7 linked regions of the Homo sapiens genome follow. The protein of the gene in region 4 interacts with the protein of the main gene of each other region in a pairwise test. Each region holds a gene or a part of one and is shown on either strand. Other genes may lie near its edges.

What was found.
Region 1: the proteins of BBS4 (region 4) and RARG interact in a two-hybrid assay, tested with the Homo sapiens proteins (one large-scale study listed by BioGRID and IntAct).
Region 2: the proteins of BBS4 (region 4) and HSCB interact in a two-hybrid assay, tested with the Homo sapiens proteins (one study listed by BioGRID and IntAct).
Region 3: the proteins of BBS4 (region 4) and EPAS1 interact in a two-hybrid assay, tested with the Homo sapiens proteins (one study listed by BioGRID and IntAct).
Region 5: the proteins of BBS4 (region 4) and EIF3A interact in a two-hybrid assay, tested with the Homo sapiens proteins (one study listed by BioGRID and IntAct).
Region 6: the proteins of BBS4 (region 4) and ALDOB interact in binary tests that used the Homo sapiens proteins (3 or more experiments, as listed by UniProt).
Region 7: the proteins of BBS4 (region 4) and PAX2 interact in a two-hybrid assay, tested with the Homo sapiens proteins (one study listed by BioGRID and IntAct).

What each region holds. Positions count from the first base shown.
Region 1 is NC_000012.12:53,210,069-53,212,639, reverse strand, and holds the end of RARG (retinoic acid receptor gamma), read left to right. Parts: intron 1-776; coding exon 777-964; 3' UTR 965-2,071; downstream 2,072-2,571.
Region 2 is NC_000022.11:28,745,039-28,748,538, forward strand, and holds part of HSCB (iron-sulfur cluster co-chaperone protein HscB isoform 1 precursor), read left to right. Parts: intron 1-825; coding exon 826-970; exon of another isoform or gene 971-1,011; intron 1,012-3,500.
Region 3 is NC_000002.12:46,303,907-46,307,406, reverse strand, and holds part of EPAS1 (endothelial PAS domain-containing protein 1), read right to left. Parts: intron 1-3,500.
Region 4 is NC_000015.10:72,692,707-72,696,206, forward strand, and holds part of BBS4 (BBSome complex member BBS4), read left to right. Parts: intron 1-2,470; coding exon 2,471-2,522; intron 2,523-3,500.
Region 5 is NC_000010.11:119,035,818-119,039,317, reverse strand, and holds part of EIF3A (eukaryotic translation initiation factor 3 subunit A), read left to right. Parts: intron 1-878; coding exon 879-1,080; intron 1,081-2,008; coding exon 2,009-2,199; intron 2,200-3,049; coding exon 3,050-3,279; 3' UTR 3,280-3,500. UniProt on the Homo sapiens protein: RNA-binding component of the eukaryotic translation initiation factor 3 (eIF-3) complex, which is required for several steps in the initiation of protein synthesis.
Region 6 is NC_000009.12:101,420,060-101,422,917, reverse strand, and holds the end of ALDOB (fructose-bisphosphate aldolase B), read left to right. Parts: intron 1-1,013; coding exon 1,014-1,109; 3' UTR 1,110-2,358; downstream 2,359-2,858. UniProt on the Homo sapiens protein: Catalyzes the aldol cleavage of fructose 1,6-biphosphate to form two triosephosphates dihydroxyacetone phosphate and D-glyceraldehyde 3-phosphate in glycolysis as well as the reverse stereospecific aldol addition reaction in gluconeogenesis.
Region 7 is NC_000010.11:100,776,582-100,780,081, forward strand, and holds part of PAX2 (paired box protein Pax-2), read left to right. Parts: intron 1-2,916; coding exon 2,917-3,002; intron 3,003-3,500. UniProt on the Homo sapiens protein: Transcription factor that may have a role in kidney cell differentiation. Has a critical role in the development of the urogenital tract, the eyes, and the CNS.

The sequences.
Region 1 (2,571 bases), on a different chromosome or scaffold from region 4:
TGAGGACTAAATTAGTTAATATACAATGTAAAGCCAGGCACCATGGTGCACATCTGTAGTTCCAGCTACTCAGGAGGCTGAGGCAGAAAGATCAGTTGAGGCCAGAAGTTGGAAGCTGCAGTGAGCTATGATTGTACCTGTGAATAGCCACTGCAGTCCAGCCTGGGTAACCCAGCAAGACCCTGCCTCTAAAACAACAACAACAACAACAACACAACAAAAAAAACCTGTAACATATACAGTGTACTTAGAATTGTGCTGAATTAAAAATTCCATTCTGCAGTTGCAGTAGTCACATTTCAGATTGCCACATGTGGCCAATGACTACTGTATTCCTATCATTGCAAAGTTCTATTGGACAGTCCAGGCTTAGAAGGATGTCTGGAACATAGTGTTTGATAAATATTAGCTGTGGTAATAAATGTTATTAAGAGAACAGGACTAGGAACAAGTGACAAGCTCTGGACATTCGAGAGTGGGGTACTTGGGGAGTGGGGTTGGAAGTTGTGTGCATTGCGCTCGCTGAAGAGACAGCCTGAAAGAATGGGATGAATGGGCAGCAAGCCTGGTAGAGAAGGCCAGGTAGAGGTTCCAGGCAGAGGAGTGGCACCCAGGAAGCCTAGTGAGAAGAGGATGAGCTGGGGACGGAGAGGTGGTGGGCCTGTGCTGGGCGCCCCCTAGGGGAGTCAGGGGCAGTTGAGAAAGGTTAGGGAGATGGCCTTAAGGGCCATGTGCCTCTGTCCTCCTGAGCCTCTCTCTTTCTCTCTCCATTGTAGGAGCTGAAAGGGCCATTACTCTGAAGATGGAGATTCCAGGCCCGATGCCTCCCTTAATCCGAGAGATGCTGGAGAACCCTGAAATGTTTGAGGATGACTCCTCGCAGCCTGGTCCCCACCCCAATGCCTCTAGCGAGGATGAGGTTCCTGGGGGCCAGGGCAAAGGGGGCCTGAAGTCCCCAGCCTGACCAGGGCCCCTGACCTCCCCGCTGTGGGGGTTGGGGCTTCAGGCAGCAGACTGACCATCTCCCAGACCGCCAGTGACTGGGGGAGGACCTGCTCTGCCCTCTCCCCACCCCTTCCAATGAGCTCCTTGTTTTTGCCAAAGTTTCTAGGGGTGCCTCTGTGTTCATCCCCTTCCTGATCTAACCGGCTCCCTCGCCAGTCCCGGGGGCCTGCCCTGCTCCCACCAGGAGAGAGGGCAAAGGGATGAGCCTGGGTTTGGACTCTAAAATCTCAGCACTGCCCCATGGGTCCTAGACTTCCCAGGGCAAGAGGAAGACCCTGCCATTCCACAGCCCCTTCCTCTGCCAGGTGCTTGGCTCTCTGAGAGCAAACAGGAACACTAGAGACCAAAAAGGGGACAAAGGAGAAGGGCTGAGCCCACCTTCTTGCTCCTACCCTTGGTGCCTAATGCTGTGTGATGCACCTGCAGGGTGTGTGCTAGCCTCTGTGCCCCGTCCTTGTGCCAGGTCAAGGTGGGGGCAGGCTGGGCCCTGCATTTCTGGGGCAGGAACAGAGGGTGAAAGGGACAGATAGATGCAGGTCCATTCTGCACCTCTTGGCTCGGGTGCAGAGTTCACCCTGTGCCCTCCGTTATAAGTCCCTCCCCCAGCCCTGTCATGTGCCTTGGGCTCCTCCTGCCCTCCATCTCAGCCATTGGGGCAGGGACCCTCCTACACTACAGAGGGGCCAGGGGATCCCTCTCTCCCTAGTGCCTTCCACCCTTTACTCCCCAGAGCAGCTTGGCCCAGGGAGGGGGGATGCTGCTTAGCTGATCCCGCCCTGACCCAGAGGAAGCCTCTATTTATTTATTAGCTTTTGTTTACACCGTGGAATTGACCCCTTCCTCCAGGGGTCTTGGGTGGGGGAGCCCAGGGCCCCTGTGACCCCTCCTTTCTTCCTCCAATCCCCAGTTTGTATTTAGCTGCCAAATAAGATTCCCATTGGCTCCCTGTGTTCTCTTGGGGGGTCAGGGTGCTGTCCCCTCCCCTCTGTTTACATCTCCCCTCTACCCCGCTGTATCGCATATTGCTGAGTTTTCTATTTTTGCAAAATAAAGTGATGGAAACTCATGAGATGTGGCTCCCTTTAGGAGGTGGTAGGGAAATGACCAGCTGACCTGGTGAGGGAGCTGAGTGAGGAGGGAAAGCTTGTAATTGATTGGACTTTGCAGCTTTCTTGGTAGAAGAAAACAGGATGAAGTGTGCCTGGATTGTGGTGGGGACAGGATGGGGGAAAGGGAGCCCATGGGGACTCACCCTGAGTGACCGGGTTTCCCACAACCACCAGGTGTGGGTTCAGAATCTCACTCTGTCGCCCATGCTGGAGTGCAGTGGTGTGATCTCGGCTTACTGTAACCTCCACTTCCCAGGTTCAAGCAATTCTCTTGCCTCAGCCTCCCGAGTAGCTGCAATTACAGGGGTGCACCACCACGCCCAGCTAATTTTTTTTATTTTTAGTAGAGACAGGTTTCGCCATGTTGGCCAGGCTGGTCTCGAACTCCTGACCTCAGGTGATCCGCCTGCCTTGGACTCCCAAAGTGCTGGGATTACAGGCGTGAGCCACTGCGTCT
Region 2 (3,500 bases), on a different chromosome or scaffold from region 4:
TACTACTGCACCCTCTCAAAAAAAAAAAAAAAAAGTCCAGGGACCCAATAGTATTTAGCCTCAGAGCACAAGTATAATTTTCTCTGTGAATATTACTTGCCTCAACTGCATTTTTTAAATTGTGATTTTCTAGCTTTTTTCTGTGAATTTCAAGGATTTGATGATGGTAGCTTTTAGTTAAGAGTCATTTTCTGTTTTGTTTTTTTTTCCTCTCCAGAGTATCTTAAGAGGCCAGGCATGGTGGCTCACGCCTGTAATCCCAGCACTTTGGGAGGCCGAGGCGGGTGGATCACGAGGTCAGGAGTTCAAGACCAGCCTGGTCAAGATGGTGAAACCCCGCCTCTACCAAAAATACAAAAAAATTAGCCGGGCATGGTGGCGGGTGCCTGTAATCCCAGCTACTCGGGAGGCTGAGGCAGAGAATTGCTTCCCCAGGAGGCAGAGGTTGCAGTGAGCTGAGATCACACCACTGCACTCCAGCCTGGGCGACAGAGTGAGACTTCATCTCAAAAAAAAAAAAGTATCTTACAATCTAGAAAATTTTATAATTGAATAGAATCTTTACAAACATCTAGTTCAACCTCTGAGTGGAGGAATGACTACCCCAAGATCACACCAAGGTCACATAGTTTTGGGTAGCATGAGTGGAAATCCCATTCCAGCATTTCTGTTTCAGTCCAAGCTTTTGATACCCCTTAGTCTTTCATTATCGGGACAGTTGCAGTTTTCTCTATTAGTGGTATTATTTCCTAATGGATGAGTAGGATTTACATTACTCTGCCCATAGCTTCTTCAACTTATTTTTCTTGCTTTCTACCCCAATAGCTAAAGCTCCATGGAATAGAGATTCCTGAAAGGACAGATTATGAAATGGACAGGCAATTCCTCATAGAAATAATGGAAATCAATGAAAAACTCGCAGAAGCTGAAAGTGAAGCTGCCATGAAAGAGATTGAATCCATTGTCAAAGGTGAAAGATAAAATAGCACTGAATGTATTTCATTGCTGTTATGAACACTTGTCCAAGGATTAGTGAAAAATGAACGTAGAGTATATAATGGCCCGGGTGCAGTGGCTCACGCCTATAATCCCAGCACTTTGGGAGGCCAAGGCAAGTGGATCACCTGAGGTCAGGAGTTCAAGATCAGCCTGGCCAACATGGTAAAACCCTGTCTCTACTGAAAATACAAAAATTAGCCGGGCGTGGTGGCGGGTGCCTGTAGTCCCAGCTACTCGGGAGGCTGAGGCAGGAGAATGGCGTGAACCCGAGAGGCAGAGATTGCAGTAAGCGGAGATCAGGCCACTGCACTCCAGCCTGGGCGACAGAGCGAGACTCCATCTCAAAAAAAAAAAAAAAAAAAAAAGGTTATTTATTTTAAGGAATTAGCTCACATAATTGTGGGAGCTGACACATCTAAAATCTATAGGGTAGGGCTGGGCACAGTGGCTCATGCCTGTAATCCCAGTATTTTGAGAGGCCGAGGAAGGCAGATCACTTGAGTCCAGGAGTTCGAGACCAGCCTGGGCAACGTGGCGAAACCCCATCTCTAAAAAAATACAAAAAAATCAGCCAAGCGTAGGCCAGGTGTGGTGGCTCACGCCTGTAATCCCAGCACTTTGGGAGGCCAAGGCGGGTGGGTCACCTGAGGTTGGGAGTTCGAGACCAGCCAGGCCAACATGGAGAAACCCCGTCTCTGCCTAAAATACAAAATTAGCCAGGCATGGTGGTGCATGCCTGTAATCCCAACTACTCGGGAAGCTGAAGCAGGAGAATCGCTTGAGCTTGGGAGGCGGAGCTTGCAGTGAGCCCAGATCGTGCCACTGCATTATAGCCTGGACGACAGAGTGAGACTCCGTCTCAAAAAAAAAAAAAAAATCAGCCAAGCGTGGAGGTGCGCACTTGTGGTCCCAGCTATTCAGGAGGATGAGGTGGGAGAATCATCTGAGCCCAGGAGGCAGAGGTTGCAGTGAGCTGAGATCACACCACTGTACTCCAGCCTGAGTGACAGAGTGAGACCCTGTCACAAAAAAAATAAACAAAATCTATAGGGGTAGATAAGCAGGCTGAAAGTCCAGGCAGGATTTCTATGTTACAGTCTTGATACAGAATTCCTTCCCAGAAAACCTGTTTTTGCACTTAATGCCTCTACTTGATTGGATGAGGCCCACCCACATTATATAGAGTAACATCTGTTACTTAAAGTCAACTGATTATAAATGTTAATCACATCTACGAATACTTTCACAGGATCATCTAAACTAGTTGGTTTTTGTTTTTTTTGAGACATGGTCTCACTCTGTCACCCAGGCTGGAGCGCAGTGTTGCAATCACAGCTCACTGCAGCCTTGACCCATGGGCTCAAACAGTCCTCTCACCTTAGCCTCTTGGATAGCTGGGACTACAGGCATGCATCACCATGCCTGGCTAATTTTTTCTGTCTTTTATACAGATGGGGTTTCACCATGTTGCCCAGGCTGGCTTCAAACTCCTAGGTTCAAAGCAATCCACCTTCCTCAGTCTCCCAAAGTGCTGGGATTACAGGTGTGACTCAATGTGCCTGGCATAGATTAGTGTTTGATCAAGCAACTGGGCACCATAGCCTAGCCAAGTTGACGCATAAAATTAACCATTCCACATAGAAAAGATTCCAAGGTTCTCCGTTAGACTATATTCAGTTATGTACTTTCACAAATATTTGTAGTGTACCTACAAATATCAAGCACTGTGCATGACACTGAGGATACAGCACGGAACAAGAAAGACTGTGCCTTCTTGGAGTTTATATATGTCAACTGTACCCAAAATGGAATTCCCAAGTGTCTCCCCTCCCCACCTTTCCCCCCCAAAAAAATCTGTTCCTCTTAGGCTGGGTGCAGTGGCTCACGCCTGTAATCCCAGCACTTTGGGAGGCCGAGGCAGGCAGATCACGAGGTCAGGAGATCAAGACCATCCTGGGTAACATGATGAAACCCTGTCTCTACTAAAAATATAAAAAATTAGCCGGGCGTGTTAGCACACGCCTGTAGTGCCAGCTACTCGGGAGGCTGAGGCGGGAGAATCGCTTGAACCCGGGAGGCGGAGGTTGCAGTGAGCCGAGATTGTGCCACTGCACTCCAGCCTGAGTGACAGAGCGAGACTCCGAATAAAAAATAATAATAATCTGTTCCTCTTCCAGTGTTCCCTGAGAGAGTGACACCACTTGCACAAGCGTAAATTCTGAGGAGGCCTTAACAACCTTCTTCTTCCTTATGCCCATAGTCAATCTATTACATCTGAAAGAGCTGACTTAAATTTGCCTCAAATTCATCCACCCATCTCTACTTTCACTGCCACCAGCCTTTTCCAAGCTACCATTCACTCTCACCTGGACAACTGCAGTAGCTTTTCACTGGTCTGTCCGTACCTTCAGGCCCCATCTAACAAATCCCTTCACTGTCACTGGAATCTTTTTGAAACCCAAGCGTTTTTTTTTGTTGTTTTGTTTTGTTTTTGAGACAGA
Region 3 (3,500 bases), on a different chromosome or scaffold from region 4:
GAAATGTGACCTTCATACTTTCCTTATCTTAATATCTGGGTAAACATTTGTTGTGCAAGCACACAAATAAAGGTTCTAAAGGTGAAATGTGGTGTGTCCAGCAACACCACACTGCTCCAAACCCAGGCCCCAGAGAGTCCTTTTGGCTCTGCAGAGGACTTCTCTCTCCCTTCACCCTGGGCACCAAGGCACCAAAATTAGCTTCGTTGACCTCAGCCAGCTCTGGAGTGAACGCTGCCATTCGAAAATAGCATCTGAGAACTCTTGGAAACACAGGAGAGAAATACAAGGGTACAGTGGTTTACAGAAACTTACTGCGAAAGCAATCTCACTGGAGTGCTTTTTTAACTAAATACACAGGAAAGGGGCATTATGAGGATTTACTCCAATCTGTGGAAAGTGAATTATATGCTTCTAGCTCCCATCCTGATTAATTCTATTAAGTGTGATTGTTTTCATTTAGAAAAATATTGCAGAGGTAATGTTCATAAAGAGAGTTTGTCAAATGACCCATGCTTTGACCCAAAATTTTGCTGTACTAACTTGCACAGTCCTATTATTTCTAGACACTCTCTAAAAACATTGTGTCTCATTTCCCCATATATTTGATATATGTGATTTTTAAAATCTTGTCTTGAAATGCAGAAGGAAGGATTCTCAAGCAGTTCCTCAAAAGGCACAATTTTCTGTTGTTTCTATGTGGAATTCATAAACAAAGCCAAGTAACCGAGTTTTTATGTGTGCTTAAAGGCACTCTTTCCTGCAACTGTGTGTGACGTATTTTTCCAGGACAATCTTTCTCAATACTCCAAAGTGCTTCAGTAACAGGAAGTCATAAAGGTAGGAAGGAGGCCTGTAAATATTTGCTGTAATTGCTCATTAGTAATGAGAATGGCTGGCATTGAATTTTGAGTCACCCTTTTGTGCTCATGGCTCATTACCTTGTAACTGGAGCCCAAGGTGGTACATATGGGCTTTCCCTCACCATGGACAACCAGGTCCACTTCTAGGTTTTACTTCAGACAGTGTGGCTTGTTTCTCTCAGCACCTCCATTTCCCAAATATAAAGGAAGGAAAGCATGCTGGTCTTCTTGCTCCCTGCCCCCTAACCAGAGGCAGTCAGGAAAAAACTTATACAAAGTAGTGACAGTATGCAAAGTTTTTATCAAAAGTGAAATGTGTGTATTTTTTTAATACTATACTAATACAACATCGAGAGACAGATAAATACTGTCTGGGTAGACACACAGCACAATGATTTAAATGATTACCAAAAAATAATCATATACTTTAATGGATGTATTTTAAACAACTTATAAAATGCTTCTGAACTTTCTCAGATTCAGCTCATGTGTCCTCTTATTCATAACAAGCCACTGACTCCCCTTAGTCACAGGCCAGCATCAGGGCACCTCGGACTAAAAATGAGACCAAAACACTCAACCCGTTACAGAATTGATTAACTTCTAAGAATACTATTGGCTGTACCCCCTGCTTCTGGGGGCAGCCTACAGGGCAATGGGGGTTACCTTCAGCACCACAATCATGAGTACAACATAATGGATCCACTTTCCTGCCCACGTGTTTGATTACACGGCCTAACCAGATAAAATCACTAATTTGTTAAGATTGCTACCACTTATCTCTTAGTTTTTTTAATAGGAGAGTTCCATGGCTGGGGATGGGGGGATAGTTCAAGAAGTCACTAGGGGTGTATGAGACACTTCTAACAATCCACTTCCATGGCTTTATAGAATTCACAAAACGTCAGATGAGTACATGGCAAATAAACATATGTTTCAATGGGGTCATTTTTCTCATTGACAAGACACCCTTTCTGAAATATTTTTCCACATGAGAAAAGGATCTGTTCACAGGATCATTATCTGGCATGGAAATTACTTATAACTTTAAAACTGAGGAATCTTTCCAAGTTCGGGGGAGTGGGGGCAGTGGGAAATGTGCCTCCTGGAAACATGTGGAACTTCTGGCAGTGATGTCATCTAGTAAGAGTTTTGCTGACGTACAAGTGGCCCCTGCAAACAGCCTAAGGCAGTCAAGCAAACAGGTATTTCTTAAGAAATTAGAAAAAACAAGGTCACTTAGAAGTGGATAACATTCTTGTCCATTCCACACCTGACTCTTCAGCTCCAGGTATCTCACAAAGGGTCTCGCCACTCTTCTTCACTTTATGCTTTCATCAGATCAGTTATGGGGCTTCCAACAGTGGGAACAGACAAGGGTCACCAAATTACACCCAACATCTACTTGAAAATTACAGATGCTATTAGGGGCATCCCATGGATGACCACCACATCGACTGTGATGCACAGTTGCCAACACGGCTTGCTTCTCTCTTGATTAAGGTATGTGTCAATGCAATTCTGTTTGGCAGCACTAGAAAAACTCAAGGTACCCTCTAGGTTCACAGTGCAGGGGCCAACAGTGTGATGGCTGTTAAGGCTCAGGGCTCATCAGCGAAAGGGCTCTATAGAAATGCAACATGCTATTATCACAACAATCATAGCTATTCTTTATCCCCCTATCCATTCTTTCCTTCCTGTGCTTGCAATTTCAAAAGATCAAAAGAGCCACAGGAAGTCCTGTGCATCTTGATGGTTCTTCAGAAGCCACAGAGGAAGAGCTTCTAACAGGTTCTCCTGCACAATGGAGTCCGAAGGCTGAAGTAATTATTGAAGTCTTGCCACCAGCGAAGGGTGGGATGTGGAAAGCTTTGAATTTCTTGGGGCAGGAGAGAACCACCTCTTGTCAGGGTCTAGGAAAACCCATGAAAAATAAGAAATTCAAGGAGTTCCATGTTGGCCTTTCAGATCTTCAATCCCTATCTGCTTGTGAGGTTTGATGCAAGTGATAAATCACAAAAAAGAAAAGTAATTATAATTACAAGGAAAACAACAAAGGCAGTTGTCATTTATAGAGCACTTATTGTGAGTCAGAAGCAGTATTAAATACTTTATAGATATCTTCAGTAAGGGAAGGGCGTATGGAACACCCATTGAGAGTATAGACTCTGGGGACCTCCTTTACTCAGGTTGAATGCAGCTCTGCCCATGCTACCTATACGACCTTGGGCAGTTAGCCCTTCTAGACTTCAGCTTTCCCATCAATGAAGTGGGGATAATAACAGGGCTTATCTCACAGGATTAAAAAGTTAATCCATGTAAAGTTCTGAGGACGGCACTGGCACAAATAAGACTGTCAGTTTTTTGTGTTGTCCTGATGCAAAATATAATTTCTATTAAGACCACATACATTCCTAGAACATGAAGGTCATCCAAATAACTGTTTGAGGATGATGGAACATTTGAGGATAAATTTGTTTTCACAGTCATTTTTCAGAAGCATTAATAAAATGAATCATACCAGTATTTACCCTGTGCAGGGCACTTGGCTTCCCGTCCTTCCAAGACTGAGGGCAGACATGTAGGTGGACGGACACGCCAGCCAGGGACAGGGAAGATTAAGCGGCACCTCAGAAC
Region 4 (3,500 bases):
ACCTCAGCCTTCTGAGTAGCTAGGACTAAGGGCACCTGCCACTATGCCTGGCTAATTTCTAAAGTTTTTTTTATAGAGGCAGAGTCTCGCTGTTTTGCCCAAGCTGTTCTCAAATTTCTAGGCTCGTGTGATCCTCCTGCCTCAGCCTCCCAAAGTGCTGGGATTATAGGTGTGAGCCACCACACCTGGCTGATCTATCTGTCTTAAACTGGAGAATTGCATTTTTTTCTACCTCCTTTCTTTTTTTTAAAAAAACTGAATTTCCATCTGTTACCCCTCCCTTTCTGCTCCTCTTATTTCATGCCTTGGAAGTTATACTTTGCCTTCCTTTAATGAGTACCAAAGAAATTAAAAAATACATGTTTACTGTAAGTCCAGGCCTAAATGTTGCTACTACAGGGACCATCAAATGCTTTACTACCATCTATTGCCATCTGCAAATGTATGCCATTGTTGTTTAGTTTTGTAGTTCTTAATGTATTTTAATTAAACACCACAAATTATGCTTTTTGTTTGTTTTATTCAGTCAGTAGATGCTTAGAATACTTGCTTATTTTACCAATTCCTTTGCTTATTCCACTCCTTTGTTCTGGGATTATTTTTCTTTTTCCTAATATATTTTCATTAAAAGTTTATTTGGTGAGAATCTAAAAACTCTCAAATTCTGAAAGTTTTAAAAATTTGCCTTTGTTGTTGAAAATTAGTTTTGATGGGTGAGAGAATCTAGATCAGGTGTTAGCAAACCTTTTTTTGTAAAGGGCCAGATAGTAAATATTGTGGGCTTTGTGGGCCATAGAGTCTCTCTGACAACTACTCAGCAATGCTGTTGTAGGACAAAAGCAACCATAGACATTATGTAAACATGAGTGTGGGTATGTTCTCACAAATTTTGTTTATAGACACTGAAATTTGACTCAATTTTCATGTGTTAAAAATTATTATTTTTTGAATTTTTTTAACCATATAAAAATGTAAAAATCATTCGTAGCTTGTAGACCAAATAAACAGGATGGATTTGACCTGTGGGCCATAGTTTGCTGACCTCTGGTCTAAATTAACATTCATTTTACTTAGTACCTGACACTGGAGTAATTATTCTTATGATGTCTTATTGTGATATTGTCTTCCATTTTTAATTGTTGAAGAGCCAGCTGTCAGTCTTTTTTGTTTTTCTTTTTCTTCTTCTTTTTTTTTTGAAATGGAGTTTTGCTCTTATCGCCCAAGCTGGAGTGCAGTGGTGTGATCTTGGCCCACTGCAACCTCTGCCTTCTGGGTTCAAGCGATTTTCCTGCCTCAGCCTCCCAAGTAGCTGGGATTACAGGTGCCTGCCACCACACCCAGCTAATTTTTGTATTTTTAGTAGAGATGGGGCTTCACCATGTTGGCCAGGCTGGTGTTGAACTCCTAACCTCAGGTGATCCACCTGCCTTGGCCTCCCAAAGTGCTGCAATTACAGGCATGAGGCACGGCGTCTGGCCTTTCTTTCCTTTTTTTTTTTTTTTGAGACGTAGTCTTGCTCTGTTGCCCAGGCCGGGGGGCGATGGTACGATCTTGGCTCATTGCAACCTCTGCTTCCCAAGTTCAAGCCATTCTCCTGCCTCAGCCTCCCAAGTAGCTGGGACTATAGGCACGTGCCACCATGCCGAGCTAATTTTTGTATATTTAGTAGAGACGGGGTTTCACCATGTTGTCCAGGCTGGTCTTGAACTCCTGACCTCAAGTGATCCTCTCGCCTTGGCCTCTCAAATAACTGTCCTTTCTTTGTTGGTAATCTGGTGATATGTTTTCTTGTTTGGCTGCTTTTAAGAGCTGCTTCTTGTCTCTGGTGCAGTTCGCTATGATGTATCTAAGTATGTATTTATTTTCATTTAACCTGGTCAGGATTTGTTGAGTATCCAGAAACTAAGGATTGGTGTTTCTCATTACATCTGGAAAAATTTGAGCCATTATTTTTGCTTATATTGTGGTATGTCATAGGAAGTTGAGAAAAGAAAAATTCATTTGATGGTTTTCTATGAGGTTATAGTGGAAAATAACTATCTCCCTTTTAGAATTGAGTGCTAGACAGTTTCTGTGTAGATGATCTCATAAGCTTCCTTTTATCAAACAGCGATCACTTTTTTGGTTTGGCTGCTGAGAAGTATGGCATCAAGTATAATACTCATATGAGGTGTTTAAGAACTGAGTATATTTCTTATGCACATTTTACTATATACTATAATTATACATTAAAAATGCACATTGTAAATATTATAAATATGTGTTATACATTGTTAATAGTTTGGATAGCAAAAGTATGACTTGACATTTGTTTTTTAAACCATATTTAAAGTAACTCTATCACAATATGGATTTAATGGATTAATTGCATAATTGGTGAGCTACTGATTATTCTTGTTATTTGGATGCTTCTTTAAGTTAGCAAGTTTATATTGTGGTGCTTCAATATAGACTACTTATTTCATTTCAGAGAACTCAATTTCCTGTATCTACTGAGTCTCAAAAACCCCGGCAGAAAAAAGGTCTGTATGCAGTTTCATGGTATGTGTATGTTTGCACAGACAGATTTCTCTTTTATTTATTTATTTATTTTTTTTTTTGGAGGCAGAGTCTCACTGTCACCCAGGCTGGAGTGCAGTAGCACAATCTTGGCTCACTGCAACCTTTGCCTCTGGGGCTCAAGCAATTCTCCTGCCTCAGCCTCCCGAGTAGCTGGGATTACAGGTGCACGCCACCACACCTGGCTAACTTTTGTGTTTTAGTAGAGATGAGGTTTCACTGTGTTTGCCAGGCTGGTCTCGAACTCCTGACCTCAGGTGATCTGCCCACCTTGGCCTCCCAAAGTGTTGGGATTACAGGCGTGAGCCGCCACGCCTGGCCAGATTTCTCTCTCTTGTTGATTCTTTTATCTATTCTATATTATTTCAAAATGAGTGTTGGGAAAAGAAGTAATAGTCTAAATGTTCTGTCACATCTAGCTTTTATTTAATAGAGTTATTAGATATTAGGAGGTTGGTTTGACCTGGAAATTATTTAAATGGGGTTTGATTATTATGTAAGTGTGTACTAATTTTCTGCTTCTGGAAAAACCACTTTGTGAAGTTCCAGGTATCTTTTTGCTTTGTTGGTTTCTAGTTTAATTCTATTGTGGGTAGAGAACATTCTTTATATGGTTTGTTTTATGGCCCACAATGTGGCCTGTGTTGGTGCATGTCCCATGTACACTTGGAAATAATGTGTATTCTGCTCTTGTAGGATGTAGCATTCTGTAAATGTCAATTAGGTCAAGTTGGTTGATAGTGTTCTGTATATACTTACAATTACAGATATTCATATTCTTACTGATGTAGTTACTGATTGGAAGGGTGATAGAAGAGTGTTGAAGTGTGCAAATGTAATTGTGGATTTGTTTCTACTTTCAGTTCTATCAATTTTTGATTTGTGTATTTTGAAGATCTGTTGTTGGATGCATATACATTTAGGATTGTCTGATTTCTTGG
Region 5 (3,500 bases), on a different chromosome or scaffold from region 4:
TATATGTACTGTATATAAAATGTTCCTAGATTCATATATTCCATGCATAAGTGTGAGCCACTGTGCAGGGTTAAAGGATTTATTCATGATTAATGACTAGATAATGGGTGGCAAATGGTGGAGGACAGGAATATAAAAGGAAAGATTGTTTTTTGGATATGAAGGGCTTGAAAACGTTGCAAGGTATAAATACCTCAAAATTGGGACTCAGAGAAAACTCTTGAAGTTTCTGCTTAAATGAGTGATCTGTGTAACATCAGAACAGATACTATGCTGAAATCTGCGTGCAATAGGAAAAATTCTAAAATTTTCAGTGATACTTTTGTTTTATGGAACACTTAACACAGATCATTTAAGGTTTTTGGTATTTTTTTTTCTTTTCCTGTTTGTTTTTTGAGACAGTCTCATTCTGTCATCCAGGCTGGAGTACAGTGGCACTATCTTGGCTCACTGCAGCCTCTGCCTCCCAGGTTCAAGCAGTTCTCATGCCTCAGCCTCCTAAGTCAAGTAGCTAGGACTACAGGCGCACCACCACACCTGGCTAATTGTAGTTTTAGTAGCAACAGGGTTATTACCATGTTGGCCAGGCTGGTCTCGAATTCCTGACCTTAAGTGATCCACCTGGCTCGGTCTCCAAAAGTGCTGGGATTACAGGTGTGAGCCACCATGCCCGGCCCATTTTAAGTTTCTCATATAAGTTTAAGATACTGTTAATGATGTCTGTGCAGTGATGTACACAGCTTTAGTATTTTTTTAATCAGTGTCTTAAATTAGCATTTAGAATGATGATGAATTAATGCCAACGTCTATTCATGATTGCCAATCTGTTTCTTCTTTTAAAAATATTTTAAAAATGTTTTGCTTTTTCAAAAAAACAGGTGGATGGAGAGAGAAAGAAAAAGCCAGAGAGGAGAGCTGGGGTCCACCTCGAGAATCAAGGCCATCAGAAGAACGTGAATGGGACAGAGAAAAAGAAAGGGACAGAGATAATCAAGATCGGGAGGAGAATGACAAGGACCCTGAGAGAGAAAGGGACAGAGAGAGAGATGTGGATCGAGAGGATCGCTTCAGAAGACCTAGGTGTGATGCTCTAATTAAATTATTTGTAGAGGCCGGGCGCAGTGGCTCATGCCTGTAATCCCAGCACTTTGGGAGGGCGGATCACCTGAGTTCAGGAGTTCGAGAGCAGCCTGGCCAACATAGTGAAACCCCATCTCTACTAAAAAATACAAAATTAGCCGGGCGTGGTGGCGCATGCCTGTAATCCCAGCTACTCAGGAGGCTGAGGCAGGAGAATTGCTTGAACCCGGGAGGCAGAGGTTGTGGTGAGCCGAGATAGCGCCATTGCACTCCAGCCTGGGCAACAAGAGCAAAACTCCGTCTCAAAAAAAAAAAAAAAAAAAAAAAAAATTCCCTCTTAAAGTAAGAAAATGGAGGCCCAAACTTCGTGGCTGTCCAAAGGCTGTGTGACCCGTTGGGCATTGGAACCAGTCCAGCCATCTTTGTCAGTCCGTTGCTTTTACCCCTGTGGTTTAGGGCAGTCAGTTTTCTTGCCCTTAAATTATCAAAAGCCCTTTGATTTTATTAGTAGTAGAAGTTCTAGCTTGTTCCCGCTGCCAAAGTGTCCTTGTACTGACAAATGTAGACCAGCAGTGTTCGATGCAATTTTCTTCAAGGAAGAAAATGTGTCTGCTGGCCAGTATGGTAGTCAGCAGTCACATTTGGCAGCCAAGCACTTAGAATATATGGTTGATGGTCCTAAGGAAATATCTCCGTTTTACTTTAAATGTAAGTAACCACATATGGGTAGTGGCTAACGAGTGGGACGGCACAGATCTGGGTGTTCTCATTTGTTCTCCACGCCCCAGGCATCAGGTAAGGTCAGGTTATGAGTTTAAACTGTCTGTTATATTTGTAAACTCTAAGCCCCAGCTTGGACTGGATGTACTTATAATTATCCATTTGGTCTAACAGTAAGAACCTGACCTGTCATTGTAAATGGCTACAGGGATGAAGGTGGCTGGAGAAGAGGACCAGCTGAGGAATCTTCAAGCTGGAGAGACTCAAGTCGCCGGGACGATAGGGATAGGGATGACCGTCGCCGTGAGAGGGATGACCGGCGTGATCTAAGAGAAAGACGAGATCTAAGAGACGACAGGGACCGAAGAGGACCTCCACTCAGATCAGAACGTGAAGAAGGTATAGAGGTTACATACAACTGAAGTATTGGAGAACTGTCGTTTCTGGGGGGGGGGGGATTTGGGTTATTTAATTATATCATAAATTTGTATGAAGGCCAACAATAAGAGAGTTGATATTCTATTTAGAATTCATGATTTTCATACAGTTACTCAATGGTCATGTTGTAAAGTGCACTTATCTCTAAATTCAAAGTACAGTAGTAGACTAAATTGGATAGCAGGCAATATATATAAAGTTTACTTAATAAAAATGAAAAAAATTGTTATTTAAAAGCAGCTTCCTGGCAGATTAAGCACAAAGTAGAAACATTTTCTCTGAAATTGTAACAGAAGTTTATTCTGTTTTAAAATATATGTATTTTTCATTTTTAAAATCCTCATTTTTCTCTTGGTTTTTAAAAATTAATTTTCCATATGTCTTGACATCCTGTTATGAGAGAATTTTTCTCTCATAGCCATAACTTTAAAAACTCCTGTATTTTGTATGGTTAATTTGCTGTTAAAATTCTTCAAGAGCCAAAAATCCTTTCAGTTATAAAATTTTCATTCAGCCAGATTTTTGCCACCTTGTCTTACGGGTTTATACTAACTGTAGTCCTTCCCAGGCTAGTGGTTTCTGCCTGTTTTCAGATTTTGAGTTTTATCTGTACATTTGTATGTTAAAGATTGTCAGAAATTGTATGAGCTTTCATTATGATTTCTGTATTTAACAATACAGAATTTAACAGAATTTCTGTATTTAACAATGATTTCTGTATTTAACAATCTTTAGTACAGGAATTTTGAGTAATTTGAGCCAATAGAATATAGTACTAACTTAATTTTTTTTTTTTAATTAAACTTTTTAGTAAGTTCTTGGAGACGTGCTGATGACAGGAAAGATGACCGGGTGGAAGAGCGGGACCCTCCTCGTCGAGTTCCTCCCCCAGCTCTTTCAAGAGACCGAGAAAGAGACCGAGACCGAGAAAGAGAAGGTGAAAAAGAGAAGGCCTCATGGAGAGCTGAGAAAGATAGGGAATCTCTCCGTCGTACTAAAAATGAGACTGATGAAGATGGATGGACCACAGTACGACGTTAAGTCTCAAGATAATGGATTTAAACTGGTGTCTTAAATAGGTTTGATCACATTCAAGGATTATTATACTTGTGCTTCAACCAATCTAAATTGGATTCTTTAATGTTGTTTCACCATAACACAAAAAGCATGAACTTGTATTAATCCTATATAATAGATTGATCATGCACCATATCCACAGGAGGTTGGAAAAACCATGCCATTTTCTGGAATTTAAGGGTGTT
Region 6 (2,858 bases), on a different chromosome or scaffold from region 4:
TTGTCATGATCTTTTATATTTACACACAATAATTGTATAGATCTGTGGGGTATCTGTGATTTTTTATATATGCATATAATGTATAATGATCAAATCAGGATAATTAGGGTATTCACTCCAAATATTTATTATTTCTTTGGGTTTGGAACATTCCAAATCTTCTCTTCCAGCTATTTTAAAATATGTAATAAATCATTGTTAACTATAGTCATCTTACTGTTGTATCAAACACTAGAACTTATTCCTTCTGCCTAACTGTATTTTTGTACCCATTACCAACCTCTTTTCATTTCCCCTACCCCCACTTGAAGCGCTTGTTAAAAATGCAGATTATGGGTCTCACCCACTGAGTTTCTAATTCAGTAGGTCAGGGGTAAGGCCAGGGAATTTCTATTTTTAACATGTTCCTAAGGGATGCTGGTAGACCATGAAACACAGTTGGAGAACCATTGATGTAAAATGTAGAAATAAGTCCTGGAGAGAACAGACAATAGCAACACTGACTGGAAGAAGTGGTACCACTGAGTGACATTCAAATATTGTCGTAAGTTTCATAATTCTGAATTTATCTTTAACTGGAATGTATACAGGAAAGCAAATGATACTACAATAACTAAATAAAAATTACATATTCTTCTAGACCAATATAGGTAGAAAATGGAAATGTTTTTAAAATAAACATGTTTTTCTTTTGGTATAGTGTACTATACTAGTGAGAAATTTTTCAACTTTAGTTTCTAGTACTGTTGCTGCAATATTGTTGGTACTGAACAGAGATTTCCCCAGTAACTGACACAAACCTCAAGCTTACCAAAGAAATGCTCAGAAAACTGGGATAAAAAGGGGAGATACTTTATAGAAGGGGATGGTATCCCCAGCAATATTCAGCAACATTGCTGTAAAAAGAAGAAAATCTGAGTGAAGGTTTGACTGGTTTCCCATGAGAGGCAGACAGGGTCAAGGTGGGGTCACATTTACTCTAACCAGTCTCCTCTCTCATATTTGTCTTCTAGGCTAACTGCCAGGCGGCCAAAGGACAGTATGTTCACACGGGTTCTTCTGGGGCTGCTTCCACCCAGTCGCTCTTCACAGCCTGCTATACCTACTAGGGTCCAATGCCCGCCAGCCTAGCTCCAGTGCTTCTAGTAGGAGGGCTGAAAGGGAGCAACTTTTCCTCCAATCCTGGAAATTCGACACAATTAGATTTGAACTGCTGGAAATACAACACATGTTAAATCTTAAGTACAAGGGGGAAAAAATAAATCAGTTATTGAAACATAAAAATGAATACCAAGGACCTGATCAAATTTCACACAGCAGTTTCCTTGCAACACTTTCAGCTCCCCATGCTCCAGAATACCCACCCAAGAAAATAATAGGCTTTAAAACAATATCGGCTCCTCATCCAAAGAACAACTGCTGATTGAAACACCTCATTAGCTGAGTGTAGAGAAGTGCATCTTATGAAACAGTCTTAGCAGTGGTAGGTTGGGAAGGAGATAGCTGCAACCAAAAAAGAAATAAATATTCTATAAACCTTCAGCTGCTATCGGGTTTCACTTTTCTGCTCTTGCTGTCCAAAGACTCAGTGTATTTCATTACTTTTGACTCTACTAGACATGACTGGGTTTCAACAGTAAAGGTCTTCAACTCTTGCTAGTCATTGGAATCAAGCCGCAAAATTTTAAAAACTGAGATGCTCAGGCCACACCCCAGCTCAATTAAATCAGAAACCCTAGACTTGGGATCCTCTAACTATTAGATTTCTTAAAGCTCCCTCAGTAATTCCAATGTACAGTCAAGTTTGAGAACTACCAATCTAAATTTCAAGTTTGAGGGTATTTGAAAATTAAAGCCATTCACAATACGAAGCCAGCTAAAAATGTAGAATGATTTTGAGCAACTTGTGGAGTATAATAAGAGAATTAATGTGACTTCAATGCTTGGAGCATTCTTGTTCAAGTGGCCCAGGTTTGGTGAAACAGGACTACCTTGTCATCTGCACGTCCAGGCATATTTCGTAGTTTTGCAGTAAATAATATTCACATAATGATACTGTATTGACTTTCAATTTTCAGAATTAACCTATAGTTACAGCACTTAAGACAACCAGAGTTATAAAAGAGAATTTAAATATTATAACTTTGGACAATATAAAAGTGATGATTTAACTGACAGAAGCTAGGAAATATAAGGGGGAGGAGAAGTGGAAGAAAGCAAAGAGAGTCAGGAATACTACTTAAAACTGATGGGTTAAGAAATAGTGCTTTAATTCTATTTAAGTAATAAAAGAAATGGATGTAAATCATAAAAATATATATCTAAAATTAAAATATTGATGGTAGTATGCTAAATTTCTTACCTTGAATAATACAAAGACAAATGGTATTGTGTAGATTAACAAATGAAGAAACAGAGACTTAACATATTATTTAGAGGAATAAGACAGAATTAGCCAAAGGGGCTTACTCTAAGACCTGGGAGAAAGACCTGGGAGTCAGGGCACAGGAAAGATGACATTTCCTTATTACCTGCCCTCTACAGTATTTGAATATTTATTTCCATGTACTTGTCATTACTTTTCTAAAAACAACTACAGACAGTCATACAAGCAACTCAAGCCTATATGAGAGATCTATTAAGCCCACGGTTTTCATTTTACAGGTGATAAAACCAAGTCCAGAGAAGTAAAATTACTTACTGAGGATCCCACATTTATAGCAGAGCTGAGAGATTAAAATTCAGGTCTTCTGAACTCAAGTCTCTTGCTCAAAAAGTGGATACACAGCCAGAGATCTTACAGGGCAAGGTGACAGGCTGTGTTCAATATCTCTGCCACCCGTGGTGTAGTCTTGTAC
Region 7 (3,500 bases), on a different chromosome or scaffold from region 4:
AAACACTCCTTTCCCCGGTCCCTGACAGTCTCCTAAATCCATACCTCTGTGTGCCTGCTGATGCAGGGGCATTGCCCCTGGACGCTCCTCTTTCACCTCAAATGCTGCACATCTAGGACCAACATCACCACTTCCCTCCAAAACCAGTCACCTCCCTATAGCCTTATTCCTGACCTGCTGATGTAAACTCCACCAAGCTTCCAGTTACACAAATCTGAGTTTGTAAAACCATGGTTGACTCCAGTTGGTTGCCAAACTCTGACCATTCTGCCTTCCTCTTGTCTTGCAAATTCTTCCCTTTCTTTCCTGAGACCAGCTCCCTATCGCCTCATGCCTCATGTATATGTATGTTGCTTTACTGGGATCTGTTTGTAGAGATCCCCCCTAGTTTAGAAATCACTCATGGCTTAAGGCCCTCTAAACCTGGTTCCTACATGTTGGGGGCAGGATGACAAAGTAACAAAAAGCATAGATTTTAGAGGCTGCATTCTGAGTCTTCCCTAATTGGTACTGTGATTTTTTTTTTTTTTTTTTTTTTGAGACGGAGTCTTACTCTGTCGCCTAGGCTGGAGTGCAGAGGCACAATCTCAGCTCACTGCAACCTCCGCCTCCTGGGTTCAAGCGATTCTCCTGCCTCAGCCTCCTGAGTAGCTGGGATTACAGGTGCATACCACCACACCTGGCTAATTTTGTATTTTTAGTAGAGTTGGGGTTTCACCATGTTGGTCAGGTTGGTCTCAAACTCCTGACCTCGTGATCTGCCTGCGTCGGCCTCCCAAAGTGCTGAGATTACAGGCATGAGCCACCGCATCTGGCCTTTTTTTTTTTTTTGAGATGGAGTCTCACTCTATTGCCCAGACTGGAGTACAGTGGCTTGATCTTGGCTCACTGCAACCTCCGCCTCCCGGGTTCAAGCAATTCTCCTGCCTCAGCTGCCTGAATAGCTAAGATTACAGGTATCTGCCACCATGCCTGGCTAATTTTTGTACTTTTAGTAGAGTCGAGATTTCACCGTGTTGGCCAGGCTGGTCTCAAACTCCTGACCTCAGGTGGTCCACCCGCCTTGGCCTCCCAAAGTGCTGGGATTACAGGCGTGAGCCACTGCACCCAGCCAGTAGTGTGATCTTGAGTGAGCTACTTAAACTTGTCTCAGCTTTGGTTTTCAATTTGCAAAATGAGGATAATAGTCTCTACTTTGGAGGTGGTTGTGCGAATTAACAGTAATATATATGTCATATAAATTGTGTATAATATTGGCACATAGTAGATGTTCAGTAAGTGGAAAATGGTGATGGTTCTCATCACATCCAAGTTTTCATTCTTGTTTCCTCTTAGTCCCTTGCCTGTCTCCACTCATTCTGGCTGACCACTCTGGGCATTAACCCAGAAGGCAGCAGGCTCGCGTGGCTTCCGCTTCCACCAGCTTGTGATGCCCTCCCCTCTACTTCTTTGTTCATCTTAGGATCAAGTTATTTTTTACTGGGGAAAGAGACAGTGGAGATCCTGTAGTCCAACCCCTTCATTTAAAGCTGAAGAAACTGAGGCCCAGAGAAGTTGAGAGGTGAGACCAAGGCTATGTGGCTTCTTAAATGCAAAATCAGAAGCAGGACTCAGGGCCCCTGCCATGCAGCCCAGTGTCCTTTCCGCCATCCTCTGTGCCTCTGATTTCAGCCCTACTTGGCTTTGAAGATCTACATCAATTTCCCTCTGTTCAGCGACTTCTTCCGCAGTTCCCTCTCCTGCAAGGGGAATGGTTCCTCTCCTCCAAGTTTCCAGCACTAACTACCTGATTCCCTCGGGTAACTGAGCTTTTTTGGGGATTAAGTCTCCCCTCCCCACCTTCATATCCAGCACTGTGAGCTAGGGGCCTTATCCCAACTGCCTGCAAGTGTTCAGGAAAAGCTTTTAGAGCTGACTTGCTCATGGCTTGTGACTCACCTGGCTGGTTGAGGTGAGCTTGGCTCACATGCCTCTCTGTGGGGACAAGGAACGCTATCAGAAAAGTGGCTTCCAAAGGCCCCTCATTTGACCAGTGGGTAGGGGGAGCATTCCTCCGTCTTGGCCCTGGGACTGGTCTTTGGCATCATTGAGCCCTCGGTTTTTCAGATCCCTGAAAAGCAGGCTCCTGGAATGTTTGATTTGGCCCCTTCTCCCCAGGATGTACAGGGAGGGCACCAGACCTTTCAACCAGGCTGGCAAAGACGCTGCAATCCAAGTAAGAACCTCAGAAAAGGAGGCCAGCAAACCAGCCAGCCATATAGGAACAGGGCTCTGACTTGTTTGAGGGCAGTAAGTGGGCTCAAGAAGAGATTGTTCAGCCTGACATCTGGCAAAGGGACTGTGTGCTGTGTTGGAGTCCTGGGGACAAAAGAAAGGGTCACCTGTGACCCAGCCCCTCCCTGGCTACTTCTCATTCTTTCAGGATATGGGGAAATCTCATCCTCTCAACTCTGAAGGACTGTGACACAGTCCCAAGTAGGAAAGCCAGCTCCAAAATGATCTCAAAACCCAGGAGGTCCTGGTACCAGGAAGAGATGCGTGTGTGGTTGAGGAGAGAAAGGTGGACAACAAGCCACTAGGGCAGTCCTCACCCTGCAGAAAAAGAAAGGATGCTGTGCTCACTGGGTCTCTGCCCTGATCTTTGCTACCAAAAATCAAACAATAATTTGGGTGATGCACATAGCAGGACATAAGGCAGGCTGCATTCACCCAGAGCTGCATTACGTTGGATCTGCGGAGCCAACAGAAGGAAAACCCTGTGCCTTGCAGCAGTCAGTGAGGGCAGGGACACAGGGAGCAGATGGATGAGGAAATCGCTGAGGAACTTGGGAGAGAGCCCCTTTGCAGGGCTGGGCTGGAATTGGCCGGGATAGGAGTGGGCATTTGATGTGTGATGCTGTTGTGACGCTGTTGCAGAATCATCCGGACCAAAGTTCAGCAGCCTTTCCACCCAACGCCGGATGGGGCTGGGACAGGAGTGACCGCCCCTGGCCACACCATTGGTAAGAGGGCTCAGGGAAGGGGAGGAAACCAGATCCCACCTAGAGAAAGGCAGGAAACGCAGCTCCACCCCTGGGAACTGCCTGCCCGCTTGAGGTCCAGAGCCCAACCTATTTGCCAACTCCTCTCACCTGAGCTCCTGTCCACATAGGGTCTTCCTGAGAGATACTGGTTCTCTAGGACTGTTCTCTGCCTCCCACTTGTGTCACCTCCCTCTGCCCTGCTTTAGTCAGTCCCTATCCTCTCCCCTCCTCTCCTCTCTCTTAAGTGTTTTTCTTCTAGCATTTCTTCTTCTTTTTCTTCTTCTCCTCCTCCTGCTTCCCTCTCCCTCATTCTCCAACATCTTTTGTTTTTATCTGATTCTGTCTCCCTACCTGTGCCCTCTTTCTTTTATATCAACTTTCTTATTCCATCTTTGTTTAACATTCCATCTTGTTCTTAACATTGTCCTCTGTCTTCTCCCCTTGGCTCCTCTTCTTTTCTCCCTCTGCCCTTCCCTC